Linked DNA regions of Homo sapiens: all the other regions are linked to region 4. Evidence: fine-mapped expression QTL. A gene starts in region 4. Each other region holds a variant in brackets. All regions are shown on one strand. Distances are from middle to middle.

The links. PIP is the estimated chance that this variant, and not a neighbour inherited with it, causes the effect.
Region 1: its variant is the best candidate, but not a certain one, in a credible set for the expression of VPS53 in whole blood (TOPMed, PIP 0.60).
Region 2: its variant is the best candidate, but not a certain one, in a credible set for the expression of VPS53 in blood mononuclear cells (TOPMed, PIP 0.62).
Region 3: its variant is the best candidate, but not a certain one, in a credible set for the expression of VPS53 in monocytes (Quach 2016, PIP 0.57).
Region 5: its variant is the best candidate, but not a certain one, in a credible set for the expression of VPS53 in Th1/17 cells (Schmiedel 2018, PIP 0.57).
Region 6: its variant is the best candidate, but not a certain one, in a credible set for the expression of VPS53 in lung (GTEx, PIP 0.53).

Annotation. Positions count from the first base shown.
Region 1 is chr17:527,418-531,417 of GRCh38, reverse strand. All of the region lies in intron 19 of VPS53 (VPS53 subunit of GARP complex), which reads left to right. All of the region lies in intron 1 of VPS53-AS1 (VPS53 antisense RNA 1), which reads right to left. Among named protein-coding and RNA genes, the nearest start is that of VPS53-AS1, 6.7 kb to the right of the region's middle. The variant T/C (reference allele first, on the strand shown) is at 2,036.
Region 2 is chr17:624,780-628,779 of GRCh38, reverse strand. It overlaps VPS53 (VPS53 subunit of GARP complex), which reads left to right. Exons shown (of 22, transcript NM_001128159.3): 9 at 549-692; 10 at 1,464-1,606. Among named protein-coding and RNA genes, the nearest start is that of VPS53, 88 kb to the left of the region's middle. The variant A/G (reference allele first, on the strand shown) is at 1,681.
Region 3 is chr17:534,312-538,311 of GRCh38, reverse strand. It overlaps VPS53 (VPS53 subunit of GARP complex), which reads left to right. Exons shown (of 22, transcript NM_001128159.3): 18 at 1,136-1,284. The region is part of intron 1 of VPS53-AS1 (VPS53 antisense RNA 1); the gene reads right to left. Among named protein-coding and RNA genes, the nearest start is that of VPS53-AS1, 14 kb to the right of the region's middle. The variant T/C (reference allele first, on the strand shown) is at 2,428.
Region 4 is chr17:713,239-717,238 of GRCh38, reverse strand. VPS53 (VPS53 subunit of GARP complex) reads left to right here and starts at 2,400. Exons shown (of 22, transcript NM_001128159.3): 1 at 2,400-2,616. The coding sequence starts at 2,530. RefSeq lists an enhancer at 1,859-1,928.
Region 5 is chr17:542,013-546,012 of GRCh38, reverse strand. The region is part of intron 17 of VPS53 (VPS53 subunit of GARP complex); the gene reads left to right. The region is part of intron 2 of VPS53-AS1 (VPS53 antisense RNA 1); the gene reads right to left. Among named protein-coding and RNA genes, the nearest start is that of VPS53-AS1, 21 kb to the right of the region's middle. The variant CCCTT/T (reference allele first, on the strand shown) is at 2,014.
Region 6 is chr17:495,071-499,245 of GRCh38, reverse strand. No RefSeq gene overlaps it. Among named protein-coding and RNA genes, the nearest start is that of VPS53-AS1, 26 kb to the left of the region's middle. The variant C/T (reference allele first, on the strand shown) is at 1,687.

The sequences.
Region 1 (4,000 bases), 190 kb after region 4:
TTATTATTTTTTAACAAACCCACAGCCAACATCCTATGTTTACTTCCGTTTTGAGGTGTGGATGAGAAAACCATCTGCTGGAACTGGAGTTTTACTTAATCAGACCCCAGGCCAGTTCAGGTGGGCAGTAGGGGAGTGTGGATCTTGACAGGCCCAGAATGGGGAGGGTGTGGGTGGGAACTACAGGGCAACGTGGCCCCTGAACGATTCTCACATGAGTTGAGGTTTGGCTGGGCCTGTACTTGCCCTGATGTCTGGGCCTTGAAACTCAAGCAGCCATGTAGCTGCAGGCGTGTTCACTCAGGCAGCAGAACCATCAGAATCAAGTTAACTCAGCAGTGTTCATAGACTGAAACAGACGCTGCCTCCAGTAGTGGAGCAGCTGCCATCCAAACTTGAACAAAAGCTATGGCATTGGAAGCTAAGATTTAGCCCAACCTCAGCTGTGTCTGCCTTGCCACAAGGGTGCCAGATCCTAAATTAGGTTTTGCTTTAATACTTATGCTGAAAATGGGATGGGAGACATTTTTCTGCTCTTTGTTCTCTGAGTACTATATAAAGTGAGTTCTTTATCTTTGGGCCCCAGAGTCCTCGAGCAATTGCAAGGGCACGTGGAACTGACCCACACCAATATTGATCATGCTTCTTGCTAGTTTATGATCTTCAGATCATCCTGTTTTGCAGGGTCACTAATTATTCTTATGACTGCGTTCACCTATGAAAGCTTTTCTTTCCCTTGAGATTAAGGATAAGAGGAGAATGTCCGCTGTCACCATTTCTATCCCACGTTGTTGTTGAAGTCCTGGCTAGGACAACAAGGCAAAAAATACAATATTTTTAAAAGAAACAAAATATATACAGATTAGAAAGGAGGAAACTAAGCTGTCATTTTTCATGGAAAATATGATTATGAGTAATAAATCTAAAAGGATCTACAGATAAACTGTTAGAATATAAATTTAGCAGGCCGGGTGCAGTGGCTTACACCCTTAATCCCAACACTTTGGGAGGCCGAGGCGGGCGGATCACAAGGTCAAGAGTTAAAGACCAGCCTGACCAACACAGTGAAACCCCCGTCTCTACTAAAAATACAAAAATTAGCTGGGCAAGGTGTGGTGCGCCTGTAATCCCAGCTGCTCGAGAGGCTGAGGCAGGAGAATTGCTTGAACCTGGGAGAACTGCTTGAACCTGGGAGGTTGCAGTGAGCTGAGATTGCGCCACTGCACTCCAGCCTGAGTGATAGAGACTCCGTCTCAAAAAAAAAAAAAAAAAAAGAATATAAATTTAGCAAGGTTGCTGGCTATAAGGAAAGTGTTTTAAAATATATTTCTATATACCAGCAGCAAACAATTTAAAAATGAACATTTTTGAGTGAAATACTTTTTTTTTTTGCTGTATTGCCCAGGCTGGAGTGAGTACAGTGGCACAATCATAGCTCACTGCAGTCTCAATTCGTGGGCTCAAGCCATCCTCCTGCCTCAACTTCTCAAGTATCTGGGACTACAGGAATGTACTACCATGCCTGGCTGGCTCTTTTTTTTTTTTTTTGGTAGATATAGGGTCTGCCTCCCTGTGTCTCCCAGGCTGGTCTCAAACTCCACCCTCCTCAGCCTCCCAAAGTGGTGCGATTACAGGCGTGAGCCATGGCTCCCAGGCCTAAATGAAATCATTTACAATAACATCAGGAAACATTAAATACCTAGGAGTAAATTAAAAATGTACAAGTCTTCTACACAGAAAACTGTACAATATTAAGACACAGAATCCATAAAGACCTTTAAAATGACAGGATAGCTCATGTTCATTGATAAGAAAGACTCAAAAAGAAATACATATGGAGTCTTTCTGAGCCTGCTCTGGCTGAGGAGGCTGCCCAATAAAAAATAAATAACAATTTAAAAAGCGGCAAATTATTCCAAAATTAATCTATAGATAGAATTCAATCCTAATTACTGTATCAATTTATCTATAGATACAGTAGAATCCCAGCAGGGGTGTGTGTGTGTGTGTGTGTGTGTGAGTGTGTGTGTGTGAA[T/C]TGATATGCTGATTTTAAAAGTTAGATGAAAATACAGAAGACAACAGCCAAAATAATCTTAGAACAGAATTGGAGGAGTTAAAGCTCAGGATATCAAGACTTATTGCAGCAGTATTGTAATTAGAGCAGTGTGGCACTGGCCCCAGGGACAAAGAGGCCAACAGAACAGATCTGAGCTGAGGGATAGACCCACACATGTGTAGATACTTGATTTATGACCAAAGTGGCATCATTCAAAGAGAGTCTTTTCAGTAAATAGTGCTGGGTAATTGGATATCCATATCGGAAAAAAATCTTGACCTTTGCCACACACCATATATAAAAATCAATTCCAAAGAGGATTTGGTGAAATTAGAACACTCATACATTGCTGGTGGTAATGCAAAACGGTACAGCCATTTTGGAAAACAGTTTGGCATTTACATAGAGTTACCACAGGGCCCAGCAATTATACTCCTAGATATATACCCAAATGAATTGAAAAAGGCAGGGTGCATGGTTCACACCTGTAATCCCAGCACTTTGGGAGGCTGAGGCAGGCAGATCACCTGAGGTCAGGAGTTCGAGACCAGCCTGGCCAACATGGTGAAAACCCACTTCTACTAAAAATACAAAAATTAGCTGTACATGGTGGTGTGCACCTGTAACTCCAGCTACTCGGGAAGCTGAGGCAGGAGAATCACTTGAACCTGGGAGGCAGAGATTGCAGTGAGCCAAGATTGCGCCACTGTACCTTCAGGCTGGGTGACAGGGTGAGACTCTGTCTCAAAAAAAAAAAAAAAAAAAAGAATTGAAAAAAAAATGTGTTCACACAAAAGCTTGTACACAAATATTCATAGCAGCACCATTTATAATAGCCAGAAAGTAGAAACAACTCAAATGTCCATCAGCTGATGATAAACAAAATGTGGTCTATCCATACAAGGGAATATTACTCAGCCATTAAAAGGAATAAAGTACCCATTCATGCTACAACATGGAAGAGCCTTGAAACCATGTTAAGTGAAAGAAGCCAGACACAAAAAGCCACCTATTGTGTGACTCTGCTTCTGTGAAATGTCCAGAACAGGCAAATCCGTAAAACAGAAAGTGGATTAATGGTTGGCAAAGGCTGAGGGAGGGGGAGATGGGAATGGCTGCTAATGGGTAAGGGTTTCTTTCTGGGGTGATAATGTGTTCTGAAACCAGATAATGCTGACAGCTGTACAACCTTGTGAATAGACCTTAAAAACCACTGAATTGTACACTTCCAAAAGGTAAATTTTATGGTTTTTGAATTATATCTCCATTTTTAGAAAATTAATCCCAGATGGATTATGGCTCTAAAAAATAAGGCAATAAAGCTTCTGGAAGATTTAATATAAGACAATATGTTTATGACCTTGGGTTAGGCAAAGATCCCTTAAACAAAACATTAAAAGCACTAACCATAAAAGAAAAGATTGGTTATTTTGAGTACTTAAAAGACTTTGGCCAAGTGCGATGGCTTGTGCCTGTAATCCTAGCACTCTGGGAGGCTGTGGCAGGAAGACTGCTTGAGCTCAGCAGTTTGAGATCAGCCTGGGCAACACAGCGAGACCCCATCTCTACAAAACAATTTAAAAATTAGCCAAGTGTGGCACGTGCCTGTAGTCCTAGCCACTCGGGAAGCTGAGACAGGAGGATCAGTTGAGCCAAGGAGTTCAAGGTTGCAGTGAGCTATGATTGCACCACTGCATTCCAGCCCAGGTGACAGAGTAAGACCCTGTCTCTAATCATAATAATAATTTAAAAGAGTGATGATACCAAGTGTTGGTAAGGATGTGGAGCATCTGGAACTTTCATATGTGCTGGTAGAAATGGAAGTTAGCCCAGCCACATTGGAAAACTCCTAGGCAGTTAGCCAAACATATGCCTACCCCATGATCCAGCAGTTCTACTCTTGAGTAGCTTCCACCCTAGAGAAATGAGGACTTTATGACCACC
Region 2 (4,000 bases), 88 kb after region 4:
TATTGTGAAACACATGTCGTGGCTTGGAACCTGGTTTTATGTGTTAAGGGAGACCACACTATTTGGCAAAAACATAGCACTTTAAGAACAGGAATCCCAGAGGTTGGAGTCAGGGAAGAGTGGCACATGTGGAGTGAGGCTGGTGGCATTCCAACTCTTAGGAGAGAGGCTGGTGGCATTCCCACTCTTAGGCCTCTTCAGCAGCATCTTGCGACATCAGAGACCAGTGGCATTCTGACTTTTAGATCTCTTTCAGTTTTGGTTTGCAGAAAGTCAAATTTCCCGTGATCATTACTGCCCATTTCCCAAAATATCTCATTGCAGATTCACAGGGTAGTTTTTCTGTCGCTTGCTGTAAAACGAGTGTAAGGATTCCATCCTCGAGGAGCAGCAGGTAACTGACAGATCCAGCCACAGCAGAAAGAATGAGTGTGAAGGAGCAGGAGTAAGACTGACAATGCGTAGAGATAACAAGTAGTGGCTGTGAGAAGCCATGAGGTTTAAAGGTTGTTTCTGGCTTTTCACCTGGTACATGTTTGTTTTACTAGAGACCAGGAGGACCCAGCAATGTTCTACGAGATGCATGTCTGGTTGCTAATATTCTAGATCCCAGGATCAAACAGGAAATCATCAAAAAGTTTATTAAACAGCATCTGTCAGAGTATCTGGTACTTTTTCAAGAAAACCAAGATGTGAGTATTGACCAAATAAGATCAGATGTAACATTTGAATTTTATTGAAACATGAGTGCTGTCAAGCCTACTAATTTAGACCTCGTATTACATGACTGTCTGACAGTGTTGGTTGTTGAGCTGTGAGTCCTAGGGGCTGAGTTTATAGTTCTTAACCATTTTGAGGTCACTGACCCTTTGGAGAAATTCAGAAACATGCACCTGTGCATAAAATTCTGCATATAGTTTCTGGAAATGTATAGACCCCTGAAGGCCAATCATGGACCCCAGGTTAAAAACCTCTGGATTTTGTGTGTGTGTGTGTGTGTGTGTGAGACGGAGTTTCGCTCTTGTTGCCCAGGCTGGAACGCAGTGGTGCGATCTCAGTTTACTGCAACCTTGCCTCCCGGGTTCAAGCAATTCTCCTGCCTCCCCCTCCCAAGTAGCTGGGATTACAGGCGCCTGTCACCACACCAGGCTAATTTTTGTATTTTTTAGTAGGGACGGGGTTTCTCCATGTTGGTCAGGCTGGTCTCGAACTGACCTCAGGTGATCTGCTGACCTCGGCCTCCCAAAGTGCTGGGATTATAGGCATGAGCCACTGCGCCCAGCCAAAAACCTCTGAATTTTTAAGTAAAAAATCAAGTTAAAAAGGTAGCCTAGATTCTTTAAAACCATGAGAAATACAGAGGTTGGTTCCCTTTTGCTTGGCTCTGTGTTTTTGCTTGTTTCCTTGAACTGCCATTTCTACTTCTAACCACTGGGGTGGCTTTTGATCTCCACCTTCACCAGGTTGCCTGGCTGGACAAAATCGACAGACGCTATGCCTGGATAAAACGCCAGCTTGTGGACTATGAGGAGAAATACGGCCGCATGTTTCCACGTGAGTGGTGCATGGCTGAGAGGATTGCGGTGGAATTTTGCCATGTGACAAGGTAGATGCCAGTTCTCTACTGGTTCTGTGGTTAATCAAATTTTCACCATCGGTTCCCCAGTCTCTAATGGTTCC[A/G]TGTTGTCCTGTGGATTTGATGCCACTTCCAGACCCCACCAGATGACTAATATCATCCTCGTACCCCACAGTGGCCCCACCAGCTGCTCCCTCTGCCCCCATCTTTGCTCTGGGACTTTCCGTGGTGTAGTTCTTGCCTCAAGCCATCTCTACCTTCTCCACCAACTCAAGGCTTATACACCAGATTGACCTACAGTGATTCCTCTACCCCACGTTTTCCCCTAGTCGGTATCGCATGTATCAGTGTGCTGTGTATATATCCCATCATCATTTTTATTTTCTGACTTGCTAGATAGATAGTTCCATAGAGACAGGGTAGTATCTACCTTAATGATATAGCAGACACAGAGGAAACATTTGTTGAATGAATTTCCCACTCCCAATACAGTGTGTATAGCCTCTGGATAGTTCAGAGCTTTTATTTCAAGACAGAATCACTCTGTCACCCAGGCTGGAGTGCTGCAGTGATACAATCCCAGCTCACTGCCACCTCCATTTACTGCATTCAAGTGATTCTCATGCCTCAGTCTCCCAGGTAGCAAGGATTACAGGTGTGTGTAACCACACCTGGCTCATTTTTGTATTTTTAGTAGAGATGGGGTTTCACCACGTTGGCCAGGCTGGTCTTGAAGTCCCGACCTCAGGTGATCTGCCCGCCCATTTTAGCCTCCCGAAGTGCCGGGATTACAGGCATGAGCCACTGCACCTGGCCTGCGTCTGAGCTTTCCAAGCATTTTAAAGACCGTCTTTTGTTCATCCTCTCTACGTTATCCATGAGTGTAGCCCAAGGACAGATAGTCTCTTTATATTAAAAAAACCCAAAGCCCAGGAAGGTTAAATCAGTATATCTATGACAAAGCTAAAGCCAGAGTCAGACTTTTTTTTTTTTTTGAGACGGGGTCTCACTTTGTCACCCAGACTGGAGTGCAGTGGTGTGATCATGGCTCACAGCAGCCTTGACCTCCTAGGCTCAAGTGATTCTCCCACCTCAGCCTCCTGAGTAGCTGAGATGACAGGTGTGTGCCACCACACCGGCTAATTTTTGTGTGTGTATTTTTTGTAGAGACAAGAGTTTTGCTGTGTTGTTCGGGCTGGTCTTGAACTCCTTTTATTCTTTATTTGCGGCTAGACTACAACAGTGTTGGTAACTGGTTCTTATTAGTTATATATTTCCTCCCAGTAGTACACAGTTAGATCTAATGCTGGGTGAAAAAGAGAAAAAAAAGCCCATATCTAGCATAACTCAACCACCTTTTCCCATAATCCATGGCCGTCTTTTTTATTAAAATCATGGAAAGTAAAGTCAAATTGCATGTTTCAAACACATTGTGGGGCAAAAGTGTTTTAAGGGATATTGGCTTTTCTTAAAATAGATTTTACCTTTTAGAGCAGTTTTAGGTTCACAGCAGAATTGAGCAGAAGACACAGAGAGTTCCCAGGTGCTCCCGGCCCCACGTGCATAGTCTTCCCCATGGTCGGCACCTTCCGCCAGAGCGATGCATTTATCACAGCTCATGAAACTACACGGACACATCATCATTACCCAGAGTGATGGTCCATAGTTCATGGTAGTGTTCACGCTTGGTGTTCACATACATTCTGTGTGGCTTTTTTTTTTTTTTTTAAGAGATGGGGGTCTCGCAGTGTTGCCCAGGCTGGAGTACAATGGCTATTCACAGGCATGGTAATAGCGTACCCCAGCCTTGAACTCCCGGGCTCAGGCAGCCCTCCTGCTTCAGCCACCCAAGTAGCTGCAACTACAGGTGCACTGAGCTCCATTCTGTGTGGCTGTTATTCTAAGAAACACATTGGGCCAGGCTTGGTGGTTTATGCCTATAATCCTAGCATTTCAGGAGGCCAAGGCAGGTGGATCATATGAGCCTAGGAGTTTGAGACAAGCCTGGGCAACATGGCAAAACCCCATCTCTACAAAAAATGCAAAAATTAGCTGGTCATGGTGGCAAGCACCTGTAATCCCAGCTACTAGAGAGGCTGAGGTGGGAGGATTGCTTGAGCCCAGGTCAAGGTTGCAGTAGGCCATTATCATGCCATTGCACTCCAGCCCTGGGTGACAGAGTGAGACCCTGTCTCAAAAAAAAAAAAAGAAGAGAGAGAAAGACAGAGAAGGAAGGAAGTGAGGAAGGGAGGGAGGGAGGGAGGGAGGGCGAGTGGAAGGGAAAAAGAAAGAAAGAGGAAGAAAAAAAAAGAAACACATTGACTCCTGTAGATTTAGAGAACCTTTTAGCATTGGTTTAAGATGAGTTGAGATTGTCACCTTCTAAATCCCAATTAACAAAATAAAGAGTGAATTCCTTGAGAA
Region 3 (4,000 bases), 180 kb after region 4:
AGGCTGACTCAGCAGAACCCTCCAGACCATTCCCACTCTTCGGGATTAGAATGCCCTTCCCTGCCAGCCCGGGGCAGGCTAGGAGCTGGTGCTGCACCCATCTCCTGCATGCACCCTTGGGGGATGGCACACTGCAGCATTGCCTCCTTCTGTTCCCAGGACTCAATGTTGCCAAGTGCCACGTAGTCCAAGAATCCCGCCAGTTTGCTATAGGTGTCTTCCAGAGCCTGTCGTTAGGGCTCAGGTTGAAGCAGGTCTGTCACTTTTGTTCACAGCTTGTTCAGGGACCACCTCGGTGCTCTCAGCAATGTTCTCTCCCCTGCGCCTGGCTCCTGGCCTGTTCCCCACGTCTCCATCTTACCCTCTGGTCCACCCTAGTGTTTGCCAGAGATTCTCTTTCCCTTCCCCTTATTGAAATCCTGACATAATCCCAAAGGTTTTAGGAGTGTAAGATTCTACACGCATACCTCTTCAAGTGTTTTATTATGGAAATTTTTGAATATATTCAAAAGTAGAGGAAACAGTGTGGTCAGCCTCTATGTACCTGTCACTCAGCTTCACGATCTTATTTCATCTGCACCTCTTCCCGGTAACTTCATATTATTTTGAAGCAACATCCCCACGTGTCATATCATTTCTAGTTTTCTGTGTTAAAGAATCCCAAACTCCTCCCAGTTGACTGGAGAGAAAGGTGTCTGTGAATTCCCCTCCAGGTTGCATGTCACTTAGTCCAGCCACCTCTCTCATCTCCCAGGCTGCCGGTCAGCTTGGGAGTCGGTGTCCCTCCCCGTTCTGCTGCAGTCCCCTGCTGTGGGGCACTCGGCAGGAGAACAGGATCCTTTACGAGTGGGTAGCTTAGCTGAGAAGGGAAGGCTGTTTCAGGCAGGTCGGGGACAAGGCAGGAAAAGGAAAGGGTCTGGGTCACACCTCACTGTCGGGTCCGCTGGGCACACTCGCATTTGTCCTGAGTATCAGTCCCTACAGAACGAATAAGAAACTCCCCAGGACAAAAGGGCCTGATTCCTGGGATACCAAAGCTGTGACCTGACTTCCACTCCAGCCCCTCCCTTCCCCAGTAACAGGCGACACCGTTCTCCTGCGAGGGATTCAACGCCTCATCCTTTCTCCCTTTCAGATGCAGTGGCAGAACGTGGAGCACGTTGGTGACCAGAGCCCCTACGTCACCTCTGTCATTCTGCACATCAAGCAGAACGTCCCCATCATCCGTGACAACCTGGCTTCCACACGCAAGTACTTCACTCAGTTCTGCGTTAAATTTGCAAAGTAAGTCCTGGGGCGTGCTCATCTCTGGGTTCTTGTTCTTTTTAATAGACTTTATGTTTTAGAACAGTTTCAGGTTCACAGCCAAATTAAGCAGCAAGCACAGAGATTTCCCGTGTACCTGACCCCCCCAACATGCACAGTCTTCCCATTACCGACACCTCCCCACACACAAAGTGGCACATTCGTTACAGTGGATGAACCTGCATCAACACGTCATTATCACCCGGACTCTGACGTCGCGCTGGACATTCCCTCGGTTTGGACAAATGTACAGTGACGTGTGGCCGCCATTTCAGTGTCATACTCAACTGGGTTGTTTTTAAAACCATACTTCCCACCAGCATCCTCACAATTTGAGTGTCCCCACCATCCAGCTGCGGTTTGTTCTGGTGCCTGCAGTACTGATTTTAATTTGTACACAAAAGAAGCATAATCATAAAACTAAATCTGCTACTTAAAGTCATAGGCAACAGTAACAGCAGTACAATTGCCAGCCACGTCAAGGCAAACAAAAATGAATGGGGCCTACTGTTGTTTTGAACTGTGCAGGCATAAGCTCTCCTTGCCCAGGATTGGATAATTAAAATTCTTTTTCAGGGATTTCATATATGCATTTTGTTTCTCTGACTGGCTTAATAAATGCCTCTTAAGGGTAGGAGCCATCGGTTCTGTTTCTTTTGAGCCTTCTTGTCCTCCCTCCCCCTGGTATTTTTTACCATGGCTGCTAGAATTTATCTATTCATACTTGGACACACTCTTGGTCCGAGGAAGGCACTAGAAATTGGGATGCACAAGCCAGGGAGCTCCCTGGCCAAGGCAGGTGAGTGCACCCTGAGCCGTGTGTCTTCCTGCTGTGTCTTGTGTGTGGCCATTTCTGCCCTGAGTTTTGAAGCGAGGAAATAGTTTAGTTCTTTGCCGATCACCATCTGGCTTAGCACCATTTTCCGTGATACCAGGTGGTGGTGAGGGTCAGTGTCTCCTCTGACCAGTTATCAAGCAAGCATTTTGGCAGACTTCTCAGGGAAGGGCTTCAGGAGGGTCAGCCCAGGCCAAGCTACTGTATTTGGGTTGTTCCCATCCAGGCCCCAGCTGGTGATTCAGGACTCCAAGTTTCTGTCTTCCCCCAATCTCTCCCAGTTTCCC[T/C]GTACCTCACAAATGAACCCCTCAGGACTAACAATTATGGAGCGGCTTGTGGTGTCAGCTTTACTTTCTAGTTTGTCAAGAAAGGATAGAGTGGACTCTCCAGGGAGGCATTAATGTTTGCAGATGGCAGATGGACCAGGAGGTGAAATTCCCTCACTCTCTGGGTGCTCATTAGTGTGTTAGAAATGTTGCTGATAAATCACATCGTGACGCTCCCCATAACTGCTGGTAGAAGCAGTGTCTCTGTAAAAATTTACTGTGACTCAAAATCTCCAGGGTGGCTGCTCCGGGGTCTCATTGAGCTTACGTTAAAGTGAAGGAGGAGTCCGTTGACTTAGCCAGTCCCAGCGTCTCCCAGCTCAGTCATATGATTGAGCTTACATTAAAGTGAAGGAGGAGTCTGTTGACTTAGCCAGTCCCGGCGTCTCCCTGCTCAGTCATATGATTGAGCTTACATTAAAGCGAAGGAGGAGTCCGTTGACTTAGCCAGTCCCGGCGTCTCCCAGCTCAGTCATATGATTGAGCTTACGTTAAAGTGAAGGAGGAGTCGGTTGACTTAGCCAGTCCCAGCATCTCCCAGCATCAGCCTCACATTCTCTCAGAGCCCTTGAGTTTCATTGCTAAGCCCAGGTTGAGTGCGCTGGGAATTGGATGCCCCCCCTCACATCTGTAATCATTCAGCCTGGGATCTAGGAAGTGGTTTTCTGTTTTCATCCATGGTGCCTTCTCATCCTGCTAAAATCCCGCTTAACAGAGGTGGGCTTGTGAGGAGACCCTTCCCTGGTCAAGGGCAGCAGCCACCACCGCCCTGATGGCCCAGAGAAGCCCTTGGCAGTTACCCAGCACATTGCTTGGTTTTTTCCCCACAGGACGTGTGTCAGGTCCTCATACTCCCCCCATCGCCACCTGTAGACTAGTATAGAGAGCCAGTTCAGGGGCACAGCCAAAGGTTTTTTTTTTTTTTTTTGATACAGGGTCCCACTCTGTTACCCAGGCTGGAGTGCAGTGGTGCAACCACAGCTCACTGCAGCCCCCATCTCCTGGGCTTAGGTGATTCTCCCACCTCAGCCTCCTGAATAGCTGGGATTACAGGCGCTCGCCACCCGGCCTAGCTCATTTTTCTATTTTTTGTAGAGATGAGATTTTGCCATGTTGCCCAGGCTGGTCTCAAACTCCTGGGCTCAAGCAGTCCACCTGCCTGGGCCTCTCAGAGTGCTGGGATTATAGGCATGAGCTGCCATGCCCAGTCCGGAGCATGTTCTAATGTGAAGCAACTTAGGTTACAAAGCGCTGTGTGCACAGCTGCCATTGGTCATGAGTTCAGTTTCATGTTGCTTGTCTGGCTCTGGTTTCCAGCACTGAGGAATTCCTTCCAAATAGCCCCTTGTTTACTCTCCTTCCTGATCACAAGCCACCTCCAGATCCGATCTCCGGACTCCAGTTTCCTCTCCCTCAGCTTCCTTTCTACCCCACCCCTGCAAAACCATAGATGTTTCCTTTTACCTCGTTTGCTGTCTTAAGCAATAGCAGCCTTTCCTGTTGAGACATCAAAATCCACAGCCTGGTTGAAACT
Region 4 (4,000 bases):
AATCAAGTCAGTGGTTGCCAGTGGATGGGGTGAGGCAAGAGGGAATTTGGGGGAATGAAATTGTCCTATAACTAGATTGTGGTAGTAGTTACATGGTTATATACATTTATTTATTTTGTTTTATTATTGTTTTCTTATTATTTGTTTGTTTGTTTTGAGATGGAGTCTTGCTCTGTCACCCAGGCTGGAGTGCAATGGTGCAATCTTGGCTCACTGCAACCTCCACCTCTCGGGTTCAAGTGATTCTGTGCACCACCACGGCCAGCTACGTTTTGTATTTTTAGTAGATAGAGACGGGTTTTACCATGTTGGCCAGGCTGGTCTCGAACCCCTGACCTCAAGTGATCTGGCAGCCTCGGCCTCCCCACGTGCTGGGATTATAGGCGTGAGTCACCATGCCCAGTCGTTTATACACATTTATCAAAACTCACTGCATCATAAATTGCAAGAGTAAATTTTACTGTATGTAAATATCTTAATTTTTTAAAGGAAAAAAAAAGTCCAAAATAAGTAGCTATAATTACCTTTTCCTTTTAGAAAAAGGCATTCATATTTTCTGAGCATGAGAGAACTACAGGCTCATTGTAGACATTTGGGAAAATGTACAAAGGATGTACATTCATCACGTGCAGAAAAGTAATATTTCCTTGCTGTGAGCTTTATTGGCACAGAATACACACAAAGCTGGGACCATGCTATGCATTTTTTAAATGAAATTATACATTTTGCTTTCTGAAATATATTGTGCATATTTTTCATGTCATTAATTTTCAAAATCATGATTTTATGAATCAATAATATTCTATGTTTACTTAAGAGACAGAGTCTCCCTTTGTGGCCCAGGCTGGAGTGCAGTGGCGCAAAGGAATCATTCCTCACTGCAGCCTCAAACTCCTGGGCTCAAGCGATCCTCAGTGGTGGGATGAGATCTAGACCCCTGATATTCAATCTCAGAAAGTCAATAATTCCCTGCCTCAGCCTCCTGAGTAGCTGGGGCTGCAGGCCTGTGCCACTGCACCAGGTTCAATGTATATTTTATTTTGTCTTTTTTTTCTTTTTTTAATGTATATTTTTTAGCATTCCTTTGTTGTTAGAAATTACATTGTTTATATAATTATTATTTGTCAATTAAAAATAAAAGAAAAAATCATACTGCTCCTATTTTTTACTTTGAGCAACTCTGATAACAACAACAAAAAAAAGTTCAGTGGGGCCAACGCGTTTCCCTCCTGGAGTTTCCCGGTTCACCTGGTGGAGCGGGTCCTCCTTGGGCTGCAATTCCCTCCTTCTTTTCAGTGTCTGCAGGAAAGGTGGTTTCACAGGGTGATCGGTGATCTGGCTTATTTGTTCCTTTGTGGGGGTAAGGGCTGGGCACCTCACTATTTCCTGTATTACCAGCTTGAATTTACATCGCGCTGTTAATGTTTAATCCTCTCCACATCGACGCGGGGTAGTAATTTGTTCCAAGTCACACAACTTATCAATGGTGGACTATTCAGGACTTAGATCCCGGATATTCAACCTCAGTAAACGTCTCCCCAGCTCCAGGGCGCTGCGTCATCTGGCTTTAAAAAAACGTTTCTGGCCGGGCGCAGTAGCTCACGCCTGTCATCCCAGCACTTTGGGAGGCCGAGGCGGGCGGATCACGAGGTCAAGAGTTCGAGACCAGCCTGGCCAACATGGTGAAACCTCGTCTCCACTAAAAATACAAAAATTAGCTGGGCGTGGTGGCGGGCGCCTGTAATCCCAGCTACTCGGGAGGCTGAGACAGGAGAATCGCTTGAACCCAGCAGGCGGGGTTGCAGTGAGCCGAGATCGCGCCGTTGCACTCCAGCCTGGGCAACAAGTAAGACTCCGTCTCAAAAAAAAAAAAAAAAAAAAAAAAGACGTTTCTCCCCATAAGGAGGCTGCAGTCACCTCGAAAAGCTTCTGCGCAGAGCCCGGCGCACGGGGAATTTCTATCGAGTGGGCACTGTCCCGTCCTACGAATGTCCTTGGCGACATCGCCACTCGCCAGCTGGGATCACGTCGCCCCCGTGGCCGGGGACACCCGCTGCCACTGACCGAGGGGGCCCCGGGAGCTGAGAGGTCGCCGCTGCGCTGCCCGCGGAGGCTGTGGGCTGCGGTTGGCGACGCCGCAGGGCTGACTTTCATCCGGGCGTCCTGCTGGAGGCCAGACCCTACCCCAACCTCGGGGTCCTCAGTGCGGGGCGCGCCTTGGGGAGGGAAGAGGCCCCGCCCATCCTAAGGACGCGCTGAGGCCACGCGGGGCCGCCGGGATACTGCGTTGCCCGGGAGACACCTGACGTGACAGGAACGCCGCCAGTCTCAGTCCGCCGTGATCCCACAGTTCCCCGGTCCCGGAAGTGCCCTGGCCTGCCGGAAGTGCCGGAGCGGCTGACAGAGCGGCTGACGGAGCCGGGCTCACCAGGTCGCTGCCGCGAGGGAGTTGCTGTGCTGGGGCCTGGGTGGCGGCTGGAGGCCTGAGTTGGGCTCGCGGCGGGGGTCGGCAGGGGGCCGGGTGGCGGAATGATGGAGGAGGAGGAACTGGAGTTCGTGGAGGAGCTGGAAGCCGTGCTGCAGCTCACGCCCGAGGTGCAGCTGGCCATCGAGCAGGTAAGCGTTCCGCCCCTCAGGAGGGGAAACGGGAGTGCGGGAGGGGAGACGGCAGCTCCGGGCGCTGGGGAGGCCGCGGCGGGTGGACGGAGGGCCGGGGGCTCGCGGCAGAAGGGAAAGTGGAGGTGGGGAGGTGGTGCGGGTGAGAAGCGGTTTCTGAATCAGAAGGAAAGGAAAGAGAACCCTTTCTAGGCTTTGATTGTCTTTGGCGAGGGCTGGGGGTTCTGGTGGTTTTGGGGAAAGGAATTGTGCGCTTAGAGAGGACGACGCTAGGAGAATGCAGGCCTTGGGTGCCATCCTCAGATTCTGGGGACTGTGGGGGCTTCATGCATTTACCAGACTCGTGCCAACGCCCCGGTTTTGCAAGCTGGCACCTCGTGAGTGGCTTGGAACTGGGGGAAGGGAATGACTTTAATTTCTGAAGCGGACGGCAGAGAAGAGAGAAAGTGTTGAAAAATGACATCGTTACCATTCTTAAAAGGTTGAGAATTCCTACCGTTGAATAGTTTGGGTGAGGTTGGAGAATACTCCCAAGGGGCCTCTTTTCCCTTCAGGAACTTTTTTTTTTTTTTTTTTTTGAGACGGATTCTCGCTCTGTCGCCCGGGCTGGAGTGCAACGGCACGATCTCGGCTCACTGCGACCTCCGCCTCCCGAGTTCAAGCGATTCTCCTGTCTCAGCCTCCTGAGTAGCTGTGATTACAGGCGCACGCCACCACACCCGGCTAATTTTTTTTTTTTTTTGGGGTAAAGACGGGGGTTTCACCGTTTTGGCCAGGATGGTCTCGAACTCCTGAGCTCAAGTAACCCGCCCGCCTTGGCCTCCCAAAGTGCTGGGATTACAGGCGTGAGCCACCACGCGCGGCCCTGCCTGCAGGAACTCTTGCCTTTGCAAGTTTATTGAGTTTTTAAGGCTAATGATATTAGAAATAGTGATTTTTTTCTTTTCTTTTTTTCTTTTTTTTTGTTTTCTGAGACGGAGTCTCGCTCTTTCGCCCAGGTTGGAGTGTAGGGGTGCCATCTCGGCTCACTGCAACCTCCGCTTCCAGGTTCAAGTGATTCTCCTGCCTCAGCCTCCTGAGTAGCTGGGACTACAGGCAACCGCTACCATGCCTAGCTAATTTTTGTATTTTTAGTAGAGACCGGGTTTCACCATGTTGGCCAGGCTGGTCTTGAACTCCTGACCTCAGGCTATCCGCCCGCCTCGGCCTCCCAAAGTGCTGGGATTACAGGTGTGAGCCACTGCACCCGGTCAGAAATAGTGATTTCTAATACTGCAGGGTATTGCTCCTGATAAACGGAGAAAATCTCCCTTAAAGGAATTGTCATGAAGTTATATGATTTAAGAAAGGGATTTATGATTGAGGAAATGGACAATTCCATTAT
Region 5 (4,000 bases), 170 kb after region 4:
TCTGTATGTCCACCCTCAGGCCAGTACCACACTGTTTGGCTATAATAGCTTTGTAGTAATCTTTGAAATCAAGAAGTATGAGTCTTCCAACTTTGTTCTTTTTCAACACTGTTTTGGCTCTTCTAGGTCCCTTACAATGTCAGCATTTCTTGCCTCAGCCAGAGCATATTTATTTCTCTTTCAAGACACCATAGTACCTAGACTACCTTTCTGCTTTGTTATGTAATCATTTTTATGTCTTTGTCTTCCCTATTAAACTTTGAACAACTTGAGGGCTGTGTCTTATTCATTTTGGAAACCCGTGGCATGGCACAGTACTTGCTTAACTGTAGTATTCCCTGAATGACTTTGAAGGTAAAGAGGGAGCCAGGGAGTGGGAGAGAAAGAACCAAAGGACCACAAACACACTTTTGACCAAAGATTGGTAAACAAGTGAGACATAGATAACTCTACTGAGCAGAGGTAGCCAGGTGGAGCTGGTAGATGTAGAGTAGGAAACTTGGACAACTTTGTGAGAGACGGTGGGGTCATAGAATCCCTGAAACCTTTAGGTCCATAGCTGGTGCTGTTGAGGATGGAGTGATGCTCCTCAATGGCACCTGATAGCAGAAGGGCTTCTGACTTCAGCAGGTGGCATCCTGGAGCCGATTGAAGAGATGTGGGAATGAAGGAATACGAGCCCGCGGGGGTGTGGCCCTGAGTCCTGCTGCTAGACAAGGAGAGGGAAATGCAGAGCGGTAGTTTGCTAGATTCACATGCAGGTGCAGCCTTCTGCAGGCCAGGCCGAAGAAGGGGGAGGAAAATGTGATGAAAGTCAGGTGGTCCCTCTGAAACTCTGACTTTGAGATTCCAGTAGTGTTGCTGATGAGTTACAGCAAAATTAACTTCTAGACCACGTTTCCTTCCCATAGTGTTATTTTCTTTCTTTCATAAAAAAATTTCTTCACTCTGTTGCCCAGGCTTGGGTGCGGTGGCATAATCATAGCTTACTGCAGCCTTGACCTCCTGGGTTCCAGTGATCCTCTCACCCTAGCCTCCCAAATAGCTGGTACTACTGGCGCACACCACCACACCTGGCTAATTTTCTTGATTTTTAGTAGAGATGAGGTCTTGCTATGTTGCCCAGGCCAGTCTCAAACTCCTGAGCTCTAGTGATCCTCCCACCTCGGCCTCCCAAAATGCTGGAATTACAGGTGTGAGCCACTGTGCCTGGCCTCCATATTGCTTATTTTCTTAGATAACCTGTATGAGTTGATAATAAGTTACTATTTACTGAGCACTTACCAGGAATTGGAACCCAATTAATTTCATTCTAACAATAAATTCATCAGATGGCTATGCTATTTCCCCTTTTCACAGATAAAGAAGCTGAAACAGAGACATTAAATCACCTGCTCCAGATCTTTTAGCTACTTGGGAGGCTAAGGTGGGAAGGTCACTTGAGCCTGAGAGGCAGAGGTTGCAGTGAGCTGTGATCACGCCACCACAGTGCCTCTTTATGCAGGATTGTGGCATGCCATACAGAGAGAGTGAGTAAGTCTTTTTGGCAAATGTGGCAACTGAGGCAAAATCAGCTTAAGTAACCTGCCTAAAAGTGGAAGAGCCTCGGCCTCCTAAACTGCTGGGATTGCAAGCATGTTGCCATCGTGCCCGACCAGATGTTTTTGAAAAAAGGAATAAAATTTAAATCACCATAATTTCAATTAGTTGATACATTTCTGTCAGCATGTGCCCAGTCCTGGTGGGTCCACACGAGTGTTCATGCTGATATGATTATGAGTTCTTCAAGCATTCACCATCATCATGGTGTATATTCATCTCCAGCTTTTCTTGATCTGACACCAGGACTTTTCTACAGTGGAGAAGATGTGTTGAACAGCCAACCCACATATTCCAATCTGCGTTGAATATTTTTCCCTGAAAACTAATGAACTTTCCTTCTGGTATCTTCTTTCCTTCCTTCCTCCCTTCCTCCCTCCCTCCCTCCCTGCCTTCCTCACTCCCTCCCTCCCT[CCCTT/T]CCTCCCTCTCTCCGTTCCTCCCTTCCTCCCACTCTCCCTTCCTTCCTTCTTTCCTCTCTCCCTCCCTTCCCCTGTCCCCTCCCCTCCCTCCAGACTCCCTTCCCTCCCTCCAAACTCCCCTCCTTCCCTCCCTCCTTCCCTCCTTCCCTCCCTCCCTCCCTCCCTCCCTCCCTCCCTCCCTTCCTTCCTTCCTTCCTTCCTTCCTTCCTTCTCTTCTTCATATTATGCCCAAAGCCATATAACTTATAATAGTGAAGCTAGAAGTAAAACTAGTTCTCCTGATTCTGGAAAAAGTAGTTATTTGGAGTGTTTTGGTGGAAATACAAAGGATTCTATCTTTTAGATTTAAATCCTACAAATCCTTAGAAATGAGTATGTCTGGTTATGCCCCTGTACGTAGGATAGAGAGCCGTGGGCTCCCTAGCAGGGGCTGTTGGTCTCATGGTCCCCGCCTCTCTCCGTGCCTTTTCCTAGGGCTGCTCACATCACTCAGGTAAATAAATCCAAGTCTCTGTTCAGAAGCAAACACACCTAGTGTTTTGCCTATTAATGGTAGTTTTAGGAAAAAACAGAAACTGAATAAATTAAATTTTCTTACCGTCTGGCACATAATTTATATTAGGTTTCAGGATTGTGAACATGTACCCATTTAGGAGGCTGCGTTATAATCCCCCAAAGACACTTTGAAACAGGTAGAAGAGTTCTCAAGTCTGTTCTCATTTTCCTCAGTCATTAAAATGCAGATCTGTTTCAGAAGGACCATGGAAAGCCACAGCTAAGAAATCCTCAAGTTCACTTCTACGTTGAATCAAGACAAGTCTGTTCTCATTTTCATTTTCCTCAGTCATTAAAATGCACATCTGTTTCAGAAGGCCCACAGAAAGCCATGACTAAGAAACTGTCAAGTTCTACCTAGAATCAAGACACAGCTTTCTTTTTCATAAAAAAGATTTTTCCCATTATGACAAAACTAAATCACTTCCATTTTAGAAAAATGCAGATTTTTTTTTTTTTTTTTTGACAGAGTCTCGCTCTATCCGGCAGGCTGGAGTGCAGTGGCGTGATTTGTGCTTATGGCAACCTCCGCCTCCCAGGTTCAAGTGATTCTCCTGCCTCAGCCTCCCAAGTAGCTGGGATTGCAGGTGCCTGCCACCACACCCGGCTAATTTTGTATTTTTGGTAGAGACGGGGTTTCACAGTGTTGGCCAGGCTGGTCTCGAATTCCTGGCCTCAAGTGATCCACCTGCCTTGGCCTCCCAAACTGCTGGGATTACAGGCATGTTGCCATCGCGCCCGGTCAGATTTTTTTGAAAAAAAGAATAAAACTTAAATCACCATAATTTCAATTAATTGATACATATCTGAATTAATTGATAATTATCAGTTATCGAAATTTAGTGATTTTTAGTGATAGTGCAAGTATTCTTAAAATTATAACAGTAGCTAAAATTTACTGTGGAATTTATACGTGCTGCGAGACACTGTGTTAAGAGCATTCCATGCGTTATCTTTCAGTAATAGATTATAGATGTTACCATCATCCCAATTTTATAGACGAGAATACTGAGGCTCAGAGAAATTAGATGACTTGTCCCGGTCACCCCTTTAGAAGGTTGCACAGTGTCAGAAGTCAGACTGGCTGACTCAATTTCAGCATCTTAAGTACCATCTTAATGACCTTTCCTGCTAACTTAGCAGTTACGCTTCCTTAGGCAGGTCACTCGCTGTCCTCAATCCTGTTTCATCCTCATTTATTATTACTCACAAAGAGGAGTAATAATACCTCTTTCACTACATGATTCATTCATCAGGCAGCAAGGTCATGTGAAAATGTCAGGCACAGCACCTGTTACGTGGTAGGTGCTTGATAAACGTTCCTTCAGCGCCCAGTGCGTAGTAGGTGCTTGAGAAACGTTCCTTCAGTGCGTGGTAGGTGCTTGATAAACATTCCTTCAGCCCCTGGTGCGTGGTAGGTGCTTGAT
Region 6 (4,175 bases), 220 kb after region 4:
CAGCCCAGCCAACATGGCGAAAGCCTGTCTCTACTAAAAATACAAAAATCAGCTGGTGTAGTGGTGCATGCCTGTAGTCCCAGCTACTTGGGAGGCTGAGGCAGGAGAATGGCTTGAACCTGGGAGGCAGAGGTTACAGTGAGCTGAGATCATGCCACTGCACTCCAGCCTGGGTGACAGAGAAAGACTCTGTCTCAAAATTAAATTAAATTAAATTGCTGAGAATGGCCAGGCGCGGTGGCTCACGCCTGTAATCCCAGAACTTTGGGAGGCTGAAGCGAGTGGATCACTTGAGGTCAGGAGTGTGAGACCAGCCTGGCCGACATGGTGAAACCATGTCTCTACTAAAAATACAAAAATTAGCTGGGCGTGGTGGCAGGTGCCTGTAGTCCCAGTGACTCTGGAGGCTGAGGTAGTAGAATCCCTTGGACCTGGGAGGCGGAGGTTGCAGTGAGCTGAGATTGCACTCCTGCACTCCAGCCTGGACCACAGAGACTCTGTCTCAAAGAAAAAAAGCAGAGAGTGGCACTCAATGGCCGAGCAGAACAAGTTACACGTCAGTAGAGGCCAGGGAGGTGGGAAGATCAGCATGGGCCAGGTGCTCACCACCAGCCTCCCAGCCTTGCTGCCAGGATGCCAGATAAGCCTCCCAGGTGCCACCACCTTGGCCAAGCTCCCCTCCCTCCTCTGCCTTGCCTTTCTCTCCTCTCCTCTCCTTTTCCCTCCATCCCTCCCTCCCTCCCTTTCTCTCTCTTTCTTTCTCTCTCTCTTTCTTTCAACAGGCTCTCACTGTGTCACCTAGGCTGGAGTGCAGTGGTGCGATCTTGGCTCACTGCAGCCTCTGCCTCCCAGGTTCCAGCGATCCTCCCACCTCAGCCTCCCAAGCAGCTGGGACTACAGGCGCCCAGCACCACACCAGGCTAGTTTTTGTATTTTTTGTAGAGATGGTGTTTCACCGTGTTGCCCAGACTGATCTCTCCTGAGCTCAAGCAATCCTCCCGCCTCAGCCTCCTGAGTAGCTGGGACTACAGGCATGCGCCACCACACCCGGCTATTTTTTGTATTTTTTGTACAGATGGGGTTTCACCCTGTTGGCCAGGATGGTCTCGAACTCCTGACCTCAGGTGATCCACCCGCCTCGGCCTCCCAAAGCGCTGGGATTACAGGCGTGAGCCGCCGTGCCCAACCCTCAAAGGGGTGTTTTTAGAAATTGATATTTGTGTCTTGGTCTAGCCCTGCAGGGTTCATGTTTGAATTCTACAGAGAAGGCAGAAATAAAGGAAGCCACGGGGCTTCAGGACCACCCCACCCACGCAACCAGGAGGGGTGAGAGGCGCTTTGCAGCAGAAGACCTACAGGCTAATGCCCGAGAGCCACAGGGGCCTCTGCCACCACCAGCACCGGCAGCAGTGCCCAGGGCTTTGGGCGGTGCCTGGCAAGGGGCAAGGGGCAAAGGGCAAGGGGACCGTACCCATGTGCCACCACTGTCACCTCTCTCAAGAGGCTGCAGGGGCTGATGGTACTTGTAGCAGGGGCACCCAATCGGAGGACCATGGTGGTCCACCGTCACACACCTTAGCAGAACCAGAGGCCAGGACAGTGAGGGCTAGAAAAAGAAAAGAAAATTAAGAGCAGGCATTCCATAAGTGTGACCAGGTTTATTTATGAGCTTATGAAAGACATCTT[C/T]GGGGATTCCCAGACGTACTTGTCAGTGGTTGGAGGTGGGGGTGGAAGTCCTACAAGGGAGCGGGGAGAGGGGCAACAACACTGCCCCAGTTGGCCCCAGGCTGATGTGGCCTGGGAAGAGATAAGACCCTCCCTCACCACAAGTTCTTCCCCCTCTGGCTCATTCTCAGTAAAGACCCAAAACTGAAACACATTTCTTCAAAGCATGTAAATGTCTTCAGCAAGTATCAGGCTGCAAACCACAGCTGCCTCCAGCCTGCATGTATTCTGCTCTGAACTGGGGATAGGAGAGGGGTACGTGAAGCCACTGTGGCTCCCGGGAAGGACACAGCTAAGTCACCTGTCATTGTGTGGAGCAAACAGGCTGCCTCCAAGGGCCCTCGCTCTCCGTCCCTTCCCGGGCAGCCCCCACAGACCCGAATCCTCAAGGGGCCCTGGAGTACCATGGAGACCTTTGAGCCTGCCTTTGGAGTGTGGCCACACAGACCAGACGTTTGATCCCCAGGGATAATGACAGCACGCCCTTCTAGCAAGTCAGCCCAGGAGCCGAGGGTCTTAACTTCAACTGCTCACCCAAGGGCTACTTTTCTGGTCTGCAAGTCCTCGTCCAGCACGAATACGCAGAACGGAGCCCGAAGTGCAAGTGTATTGATGCAGCTCCGAGGAGGCCATGTGCCCCAGCTCTTTGCCAAATCCCACCTGGATTTATTTTGCAGAAGACAAGGAAGGTCCTTTTCTGTGTAACTAGGGAGCATTTGGGAGAATCAGCTCTTAGCTTACAAAGAGGCCTCCAGAGTGGAGCCGTGTTTGACTGGCATCAGGGGACTCCCCACACTGGGCACACTGGACTGATGGATGCCAGCTGCACTTCCTGTCTGGGTTTGTGTCATCATTTGGACCTGGCCAGACCCCACGACTCCAGCCAAACGGGTGGTCTCCCAACTGAGAGATCAGAAAAAAAGCCAACGGGGCACAGTGGCTCACACCTATAATCCCAGCACTTCAGGAGGCCAAGGCAGGTAGATCACCTGAGGTCAGGAGTTTGAGATCAGCTTGGCTGATTTCAACATGGTGAAACCCTGTCTGTACTAAAAATACAAAAATTAGCTGGGTGTGCTGGTAGGCTTCTGTAATCCCAGCTACTCGGGAGGCTGAGGCAGGAGAATCACTTGAACCCAGGAGGTGGAGGTTGCAGTGAGCTTAGATCGTGCCACTGCACTCCAGCCTGGGCAACGAGAGCAAAACACTGTCTCAAAACAAAAAACAAAAAAACCCAAACAAACAAAAAACAAAACAAAACTAAGAAAGCCAGCCTGTTCCTTCAGACCTGATAGCCCTGAAAGCGAGAACTTTGGTAGCCCTTTGCCTGTATCTGTTTCAGGCCATCTTTGTGAGTCTCGGGGGCTCAGGGTTATGAATCGAGCTCACCAACATGTGTGGGTACACTCATATGGGCTGTGTTCTGTCAGGTTTGTGTTTTTAATTCAATTCGCTTCTTTACTGAATATGACAGGTCCCTTTCAATGTTCTTTGAAAACTATCACCTTAATCTAAACTAAGGAACAAAATAACTTTTTGTTAAAAACATTTTTAGGACAGGGTCTCGTTCTACCACCCAGTAGTGCGATGGCGTGATCATAGCTCATTGCAGCCTTGACGTGGGCTCAAGTGATTCTCCCACCTCACCCTCCTGAGTATCTGAGACTACAGGTACCTGCCACCCACCTCACCCTCATGAGAATCTGAGCTCACCCTCCTGAGAATCTCAGACTACAGGTACAGGCGGCCACCATGCCAGGCTAATTTTAACAAAAATTTTGTAGTTGGCTGGGTGTGGTGGCTCACACCTGTAATCCCGGCACTTTGGGAGGCCGAGGAGGGAGGATGGCTTGAGCCCAGGAGTTCAAGAGCAGCCTGGGCAAGATGGTAAGACCCTGTCTCTACAAAAATAGAAATAAATGTTAAAAAAATGATAAATTATGAGAACAGAGCAATAAAAATATAAACATAAATTATAAAAGTAGAGCTTTACGGCTGGATGTGGGGGTGCACTCCAGTGGTCCCAGCAACTCAGGAGGCAGAAGTGGGAGGGTTGCTAGAGCCCAGGAGTTCAAGGCTGCAATGAGCTATGATCGTGCCACTGCACTCCAGCCTGTGTGACAGAGGGAGACCCTGTCTCTATTAAAAAACAAAACAAAACAACAACAAAAAAAGTGTAGAGATGAGGACTCACTATGTTGCCCAGGCTGGTCTCAAACTCCTGGGATCAAGCAATCCCCACCCCTCGGCTTCCTGAAGTGCTGAGATGACAGGTGTGAGCCACCATGCCCAGCTGTAAAGTTCTGTTTTTCAAAAAGCATTTTGGTTGACAGGTGCATATGAAGGAAAGAGAAGACCTGGTTCAACAGCAGGCAAATCCACACATCATGAGCCACAGAACAGCCCAAGACCTGGGGGCTGGGAGAGGGCCGGTGTCGGGCACGGGGCAC